Regions from separate parts of the Homo sapiens genome. Here region 2 is linked to region 1. Evidence: fine-mapped expression QTL. A gene starts in region 1. The other region holds a variant in brackets. All regions are shown on one strand. Distances are between the middles of the regions. Region 1 holds the start of ESPN (espin). Region 2 overlaps PLEKHG5 (pleckstrin homology and RhoGEF domain containing G5).

The links.
Region 2: its variant is fine-mapped to the expression of ESPN in blood mononuclear cells (TOPMed, PIP 0.96).

What each region holds. Positions count from the first base shown.
Region 1 is chr1:6,422,118-6,426,489 of GRCh38, reverse strand. ESPN (espin) reads right to left here and starts at 1,714. Exons shown (of 13, transcript NM_031475.3): 1 at 1,241-1,714. The coding sequence starts at 1,534. RefSeq lists silencers at 1,535-1,584, 1,615-1,774 and enhancers at 1,771-2,384, 2,385-2,999.
Region 2 is chr1:6,466,921-6,471,292 of GRCh38, reverse strand. It overlaps PLEKHG5 (pleckstrin homology and RhoGEF domain containing G5), which reads left to right. Exons shown (of 21, transcript NM_020631.6): 13 at 193-303; 14 at 409-558; 15 at 650-787; 16 at 938-1,057; 17 at 1,617-1,749; 18 at 1,843-1,958; 19 at 2,052-2,251; 20 at 2,707-3,468; 21 at 3,721-4,171. The coding sequence ends at 3,730. Among named protein-coding and RNA genes, the nearest start is that of TNFRSF25, 2.9 kb to the right of the region's middle. RefSeq lists an enhancer at 4,351-4,372. The variant G/A (reference allele first, on the strand shown) is at 2,764.

The DNA of each region.
Region 1 (4,372 bases):
CCCACACTTTCTCCCCCCACACCCAAGCCTGCCCAGCCCAGAGGGCAGGAGACGATAAGCTGGGCCCAAGGCCACCTGCTTCTCCCAGCTCCTCTGCACTGGCCAGAGAGGCTTCTGGCCAGGGCTGGACACTGGATCTGGGAGGCATGCCACCGCCCAAAAGAGTGGGCATGGGCCACTTGGCCAGGAAGCCCTGGTAACAGGGCCCACTGAGAGATAGCAGGTGGGCCATCTCCCAGGAAGGGTGGGAAGAGGGGCTTGCTATCTGAAGGCAGAAGGTGGGGTTGGCCTGGCCATCTTTGGGGCATAGTAAGCCAGTTTAGAGTTACCCTGACTCCTCCCCTTCCATCTCCAGGTCACCCAGTGGTCTAAGTGGAAATCGGTTGTGGTTCCTCCCTCCCATGGCTGCCCCCACACCCAGAATTTCATCCAAATCCCTAACCTCGGCCTATGATACTCTCTGGCCTGGCCCTGGCAGCTTTTCCCTTCCTCACCCACTCTGAACATGATGCCTGAGGCTGGCCCTCCGACAGGACAAGAGCGTGCATGCCTCAGGGCTCTGCACTTCTTGTTCCCTGTGCCTGGAACTGTCCCACCGCTGCCTGGCTACCTGCTTCTCAGCAGCCAGGACTCCCCTTGGAGGTCACTGCTCAGAGTGACCAGGTGGGGTCTGGAGGCAGCAAGAATCAGCCTGGGTTGGAGAAGCAGCTGACAGCTTGACAGCACTGATGTCCTGGGGTCAGCCTGGGTTATGGGGAGACCCCCATTTACCACGGCTCATCACCCTTCCCCCACACCCTGGCTGGGACACCTGAATCTCAGCCTCGGGTGGGCTGTGGGACTTTGCCCAGCCTCCTTTCAGATCCGGTCCTGGAGGACACGGGCGTCTGACTCTGCTGCCCAGGCCTCACGTCCCACCCACTTCCAGGACTACAGGATCAGTGCTTTGCTTCTCCCGGTACACACTAGTAACCACAAGCCCCACGGAGGCCCCTCCCTTCTGGCTCCCATCACCCAGGTGCGCTTCCAGGGAGCACCCAGGCTCGCCAGGGCATCTGCCCCAGTACTGGCAAGCCAGGGAGCCCATTCACTTGAGGGCCTCTGGAAGGAGCTCCGTGCAGGGTTCAGCTGGGCCAGGAGGTGCCAAACCCCACCCATCCTTGAGCCCCGGGGGACTCTGGGCCAGGACTCTGTCCTGAGGAGGAAGCCTCAGTGCCCCTGGCGAACCGCGCGGACCCACCTGCACTCTGCAGCCGCCCTGCGACAGCAGCCACTGCAGGCAGGCGAGGTGGCCGGTGGCGGAGGCGTCGTGGGCCGGTGTGGCGCCGTTGCGGGCGCGGGCCGCGGCGGGGAGGGCGGCTTCCTCCACCAGGAAGCGCAGACAGTGCAGCTTCCCAGCGCGGGCCGCGTGGTGCACGGGCAGCGCGTCCAGCGGGTCGCGCAGCGAGGGCCCCAGGAGGCCTGCGGCGTGCAGCGACCTCAGCACGTCCAGCTCGCCCTGCCGCGCCGCCTGCAGCGCCTGCTCCAGGGCCATGGTGCCGCGTGCGGCGCCGCGACTCCGCACTCAGCGCCTTCCCCAGGACGCCATGCACGTGTTCTTGCGGGCCAGAGGAGCCCGCGGTGCGGCCGTCGGGGATCTGCGGGCCGGGAGGCGGAGCGGCTGTGGGCCTGGCCTCCGCTCCGCGCTGCCTGGCGCTCCGCTCCGCCGCGCTCTGGGGCCGGAGCCCGCGGACGCCGGCTTAAGACTCGGGCCCGCCCCCACCCCGCCCCGCCCCGCCCCGCAGCCTCCGCCCGAGTTCCCCGCCCGCCCCCGCCGCGACGCGGGGACACTCGTGCGACTGGGGCAAGGTGCCCAGGGGCTTCTCTCCTAATTTGCCTCACGTAACAGTTGAGACCCCAGAGGGCAGCAAAACTGGGTTCGAATTGGAGAGCCGTCCAGGCACAGACAAATTCATTCATCTGCCCAGTGCCCGCTAACTGCGGTTCCAGGCGCCGGCGACGCAATTCCAGAGGTGATGGGGAGTGATTGTCGGGACCGCGTGGGCGGACAGGGAAAGGTCTCTGAGGAGGTGCCGTGGGGCTGGGTTTGAGCGGCGAGAAGGGTATTCCAGGCGGGGTGAGGAGCACGAGGACAACGGCCCTGAGGCAGGAGCAGCCCTGCCACGTCCCTGAAGGGCTCTGGGTCGAAATCCCCGGAGATTGCAAAGAGCCCTGCCTTCCAGGGTCCCTCCAGATCCGAGAACTGCCCCCAGAGGTTCCAGCGGGGAGGGCAGGAAGGCAGGACGGGAACCACTAGTGCGCTGGGAACGCCATGGCCTCAGGCCGCCCGCAGCCGCTGTCGGTGTGGAGGGGCTTCCAGCCACACAGAAGGCAGGGATGGGTGGGAGGTTAGGGCTTGTGGGGAGACGCGGGAGCGCCGGCATCCAGAGAGAGGGGGCTGAGACCCCTGCAGGGGCTCAGGAAAGTGCCAGAGGGCGCGGGCAGGAGAGCGAATGTGTGCCAAGCCACCCTGCAGGCTCCACTGAACACCAGCCGTGGGAGCGGCTAGTGCCCAAAGGACGCGAGGAAAAGCTGACAGAAGGTGGGAGCTACATGGCTGTGGGAGTGCAGGCGGCCTATCAGCGATCTTGAAGCACCCTGTGCCCTTCCTGTCCCAACACCCACCCCCTCTGGAGTCCCGTGGGGGCTTGGCCCCACCCCGGGCTGAAGGTTTCACTCCGCCCCAGCCCCAGCCTGGCACAGTCAGCACTGGAAATGCTGTAGAATGAAGGAAGCCCCTTCCAGGAACAGTGGGAGTCATAGTGCTAAACTCATAGTGCTAAACTCGGCAGCTGCCTCCGGTCCTTTCCCTGGGCCTGCCACCTAGTGGCGACCTGCGTGATGGCCTCCCGCGCTCCCAGGTGCCCAGGTAACTGGAGCTGCTGGGCTGTGCCTAGCCAGGTGGGTTTCCAACGACTTCCACCAGGCCAGATCGCCCTCACTCTCTCCATGGGACCTGTGGCCGCTGGAATCTGGGACGCTTGCCCAGTGGTTTGCAGACAAAAGGAAGGAGGAGTCATTTCCTCGCAGCCTCGCTGCTGGAGCTGGTGGCCAAAGCAACAGGCTCACTGCGGCTGGCGCTGCCCTCCTCTGGGTGCCCAGAGGCAGGTGTGCCGTGAGGCCAGCAAGTGGCAGGGGTACTGTTGGGAGGAGGTGCTAAAATGGCTTGTCTTGGGCACCCCTCCCCTGGGCCTCCTCCATTCCAAAAGGCCCTGCAATTTGTGTTCTCCACTCCTAAGGTGGCCACCTTGGTCATGGACGAGCTCATCTAGCACATGGTTTTGTGATTTTGTGGGCCAGGGCTAGGTGATGCTTTATTGCTATTCCAGTGGGCTGAGCAGATGCCCCTGAGCCCCTGCCACTGTTGTTAATGACATCTCCATTAGTGCCACATGTGAGCACCCACCCCTGCTGACCAACCTCTCAGACTCCTTTCGGGACATGACTCAAACTCAGGCTGTGAGCCAGGCCCTTCCTGCCAGGCTTCTGTCCTCTCCGGGCTCTCCCATGTCCACCGGGCCAATTGGGTCCTCCCCAGCAGCCCTAGGGAGCTCACGGCAGCAGTAGCACTTTTATGAAATCTGTACCACCCACCAAGTGCTCACCATGCTTCACATGGATATTTAATCCAGAGGTGCTATGAGAGAGGTACAACTATTGTTCCCAGTTCACAGTCGGGGATAATGAGGCATGGAGAGATAGGGAGGGTTTTTTTTCTTTTTTTCTTTTTTTTTTTTTTGAGACAAGTCTTGCTCTGTCGCCCAGGCTGGAGTGCAGTGGCACAATCTCAGCTCACTGCAAGCTCCGCCTCCCAGGCTCACGCCATTTTTCTGCCTCAGCCTCCCGAGTAGCTGGGACTACAGGTGCCTGCCACCACGCCCAGCTAATTTTTTGTATTTTTAGTAGAGACGGGGTTTCATTGTGTTAGCCAGGATGGTCTCGATCTCCTGACCTCGTGATCTGCCCACCTTGGCCTCCCGAAGTGCTAGGATTACAGGCGTGAGCCACTGTGCCCGGCCTGTTTGTTTGTTTTTTGAGATGGAGTTTCACTCTTGTCACCCAGGCTGGATTGCAATGGCATAATCTAGGCTCACTGCAACTTCTGCCTCCCAGGTTCAAGTGATTCTCTTGCCTCAGCCTCCCAAGTAGCTGAGATTACAGGTGTCTGCCCGCCACCATGCCTAGCTAATTTTTTTATTTTTTGTATTTTTAGTAGAGATGGGGTTTCATCATGTTGGCCAGGCTGGTCTCGAATTCCTGACCTCAAGTAATCTGCCCACCTTGGTCTCTCAAAGTGCTGAGATTACAGGCATGAGCCACCACGCCCAGCCTT
Region 2 (4,372 bases), 45 kb before region 1:
TGATCCCTGGCCACGGGTGGTCACTTTGGCTGAGGCTCAGTTTCCTCATCAGGAAACAGGGATCATAAGCTTGCTGCCCCCTTGGGGTGGTCGCCCAAGTGCAGTAAGGAAGCGCTTGCGCAGCGCCTGGCGCGGGCCGGCCCGCAGGGAGCGCGCGGTAACCGGCGCCGTGGTTGTTCTGCCCCGGGCCAGTTCGGCTCGCTCTTCAAGCCCTACATCCGCTACTGCATGGAGGAGGAGGGCTGCATGGAGTACATGCGCGGCCTGCTGCGCGACAACGACCTCTTCCGGGCCTACATCACGGTGAGGGCGCGCGTGCCGTGGGCGGGGGCGCAGGAGGACGGGACCCTGGACGGGGCCGGGTGGGGCGGGGCCTGCCCTGAGCCCGCCCCCACTCCCCCACCGCAGTGGGCGGAGAAGCACCCACAGTGCCAGAGGCTGAAGCTGAGCGACATGCTGGCCAAACCCCACCAGCGGCTCACCAAGTACCCGCTGCTGCTCAAGTCGGTGCTGAGGAAGACCGAGGAGCCGCGCGCCAAGGAGGCCGTCGTCGCCATGGTAACCCTGATGGCCAGCGGGAGCCGTCCCCCCTGCGCGGCTCTCTGCTCCGTCATGACCCTGGACCTGAAGCTCCCTCACCTGCCCCTAGATCGGCTCCGTGGAGCGCTTCATCCACCACGTGAACGCGTGCATGCGGCAGCGGCAGGAGCGGCAGCGGCTGGCGGCCGTGGTGAGCCGCATCGACGCCTACGAGGTGGTGGAAAGCAGCAGCGACGAAGTGGACAAGGTGGGCGTGTGTGTCTGCGGGGGTTGCCGGCTGGGAGAGAGGAAGGCCCAGCTGGCAGGCAGGGGCTGTGCTGGGCATCTCACTGAGGATGCCTAGCTGAGATGGGAGTCAGTCTCTGGCCTCCCCTACGTTCACGCCATCCGTCCCCAGCTCCTGAAGGAATTTCTGCACCTGGACTTGACAGCGCCCATCCCTGGCGCCTCCCCGGAGGAGACGCGGCAGCTGCTGCTGGAGGGGAGCCTGAGGATGAAGGAGGGGAAGGACAGCAAGGTGATTCCAGGGCCACCCCACCCCTGTGCCCTGCCCTTCCTAGGGACCTCCTGGGCCCCAGTCACTGGTTCTCAGCTCTGCAGTCCCTTCGGTGGTTACTCAAGAACCAGTGACCTTGTCATAGTGAATGACAGTTCTCTGCCTGCCATTCACAAATCCAGCAGTAGGGTCCTAGCCCTTGAAGGCACCAGTTGTGCCCATTTGTTGGTGCCACATGGGTTCCTGGTGGGAGGGCAGCCATATTCCACAAGTGGGCCAGGAACCCCAGAGCCTTGCTACTGTGCCATGGCCCCTTCAGGCATGGGGCAGGCTGAGAGCTTGCACACGGTGACTTCAAAGTCACCAGTCTTCTTTTTAATGTAAACTTGTATTGAGATAAGTCATCAACGTACATCTCAGTGAAAGAGAATCATCTTCCTCTTCATTTTAATTTTACTTGAAGGTTCATGGTGGGAGGAGTGTTTGACAAAAACCGAGTGCTCCCAGGGGAGGCTGGTGCCACAGTCCCTGGCCCTGACCCTGCTGGCCTCTCTGGCCACCCCCCCTCCTGCCACTGCAGATGGATGTGTACTGCTTCCTCTTCACGGATCTGCTGTTGGTGACCAAAGCAGTGAAGAAGGCAGAGAGGACCAGGGTCATCAGGCCACCCCTGCTCGTGGACAAGATTGTGTGCCGGGAGCTACGGGACCCTGGTAAGGAGCCCTGGTCCCCTGTTCCTGGTCAGGGGCTGTGATGGGTGGGGGCCATCGTCTCTGCTGACACTGACTTGGGCCTTCCCTAACCAGGGTCCTTCCTCCTTATCTACCTGAATGAGTTTCACAGTGCTGTAGGGGCCTACACGTTCCAGGCCAGTGGCCAGGCCTTGTGCCGTGGCTGGGTGGACACCATTTACAATGCCCAGGTGAGTGCAGAGTAGTGAGTGGGTGGGCAAGGCAGATTAGGGAGATGCTGGTCACAACCCATTCTGTCCCATGTACCCCAACCTTGCCTGCAGAACCAGCTGCAACAGCTGCGTGCACAGGAGCCCCCAGGCAGTCAGCAGCCCCTGCAGAGCCTGGAAGAGGAGGAGGATGAGCAGGAGGAGGAAGAGGAGGAGGAGGAGGAGGAGGAGGAAGGCGAGGACAGTGGCACTTCAGCTGCCAGCTCCCCTACCATCATGCGGAAAAGCAGCGGCAGCCCCGACTCTCAGCACTGGTACGTCTGCTCATGACCACCCAGCAGGTCAAACCAGGACAAGTACTCTAGCCCAGGACTCCTGAAGGCCCAGCCACGCTCCCTTCCTCCCAATGGCCTCTTGTCATGAACACTGTGGGAGCGGGGCTCTGTCTCCCCCAGAGTCCGGGTGGGGAGGGCAGACACCTTTCCATGTGCTGCCAGCCCTGATCCATTCGTGGTAGCTGCCTGGGGTGCTGTGCTGAGGATCCTTAGGGCAGATCCAGCCTTGGCAGGGAAGAGTGCTGGGCTCGCTACTGAGGTCTGTTGTGGGCACTGGAGCTGGAAGATCTGCCACACCTGCCACATGCTGCCATCTCTGAGCCTCCAGCCCCAGGAGGGCAGAGGGTATAAACCACCGTGCATTGCCCAGCCTGGGGCTGCCTCAGGCCATCTAGGTTTCATGGCCTGGGCTGACTCTGCTCCTGGCCCCACAGTGCCTCAGATGGCTCCACGGAGACCCTGGCCATGGTTGTGGTAGAGCCTGGGGACAC[G/A]CTGTCCTCCCCCGAGTTCGACAGCGGTCCTTTCAGCTCCCAGTCTGATGAGACCTCTCTCAGCACCACTGCCTCATCTGCCACGCCCACCAGTGAGCTGCTGCCCCTGGGTCCGGTGGACGGCCGCTCCTGCTCCATGGACTCTGCCTACGGCACCCTCTCCCCAACCTCCTTACAAGACTTTGTGGCCCCAGGCCCAATGGCAGAGCTAGTGCCTCGGGCCCCAGAGTCCCCACGAGTTCCTTCCCCTCCACCCTCGCCCCGTCTCCGCCGCCGCACCCCTGTCCAGCTGTTGAGCTGCCCGCCCCACCTGCTCAAGTCTAAGTCCGAGGCCAGCCTCCTCCAGCTGCTGGCAGGGGCTGGCACCCATGGGACACCCTCTGCCCCCAGCCGCAGCCTGTCAGAGCTCTGCCTGGCTGTTCCAGCCCCAGGTATTAGGACTCAGGGCTCCCCTCAGGAAGCTGGGCCCAGCTGGGATTGCCGAGGGGCCCCTAGCCCTGGCAGCGGTCCTGGGCTAGTCGGCTGCCTGGCCGGGGAACCTGCAGGCTCCCACAGGAAGAGGTGTGGAGACCTGCCCTCGGGGGCCTCTCCCAGGGTCCAGCCTGAGCCCCCACCAGGGGTCTCTGCCCAGCACAGGAAGCTGACCCTGGCCCAGCTCTACCGAATCAGGACCACCCTGCTGCTTAACTCCACGCTCACTGCCTCGTGAGTGGCCTGGACTGGGGTAGGGCAGGTGGCTCAGGGCACTGGCATGGGGGCCCACTCATGCCTGGGAGCATCGCATTTGGGGAGGGTCATGGCGGAGGGAGCCTGAACCCTGCCCAGTGTCTGGGCGCAGGGGGCTGTGGTGGGCAGCAGTGAAGGGGCCTGAGGAGTGCCGTGGGGAAGAGAGGGTGACCAGAGCCACTCTGAATGGCGTCAGCCAAAGAAGGACTCTGTCCCCTCCCCACCCTGTAGGGAGGTCTGAGCAGAGGGAGGCCCCCAAGAGTGCCATTGACCAAGAGACAGCAGACAGCCTGCCTCCTGGGGCGTGCCGGCACCTGCTTCAGCTACTGCCTCCTGTATGCATGAGCCGGATGCTGGGCAGGATCCCTGCCTACGCCCGGGCCCGATTTGCGCTTTGCCGGACTGGATGGAGTGGAGGAGGCCCAGGCCACAGTACCACCCCACCTGCCCAGGCAGCCCCTCGTCACCTACTCCCCGAAGTTACCAGCTCAGCTCGAGTCTTCAGGGCTGGGCTCCTAGGCTGCCCATCCTACTTCTACCCTCACTGGCCTCCAGTGGGATTCACTCCTGCCCTGCCCCCACCTTCCCAGTCCCACAGGCCACCCCTGGCTTGGGCTGGGTTCTGTGAAGTTACGTATTTATTGAGCTTTTGGTTCTTTTATAAAGACTTGTCTAGACTCCACTGGGAAGAGTCCTTTGCTTTGGGGCCCAGTGACTCGGGGCACTTGAGTTCAGGGCGGCCTCCTTGTGTTCCTGTGCTCCTCCACTTGCCACGGATGGGCCACGGATGGAGCTTGCCATGGGAAGCACTGGGAAGTAATGGGGTGTGGGGTGCCACCAGACCAACACCCCCAGACTTCCCCACCTTCAGCCACCATCAGAG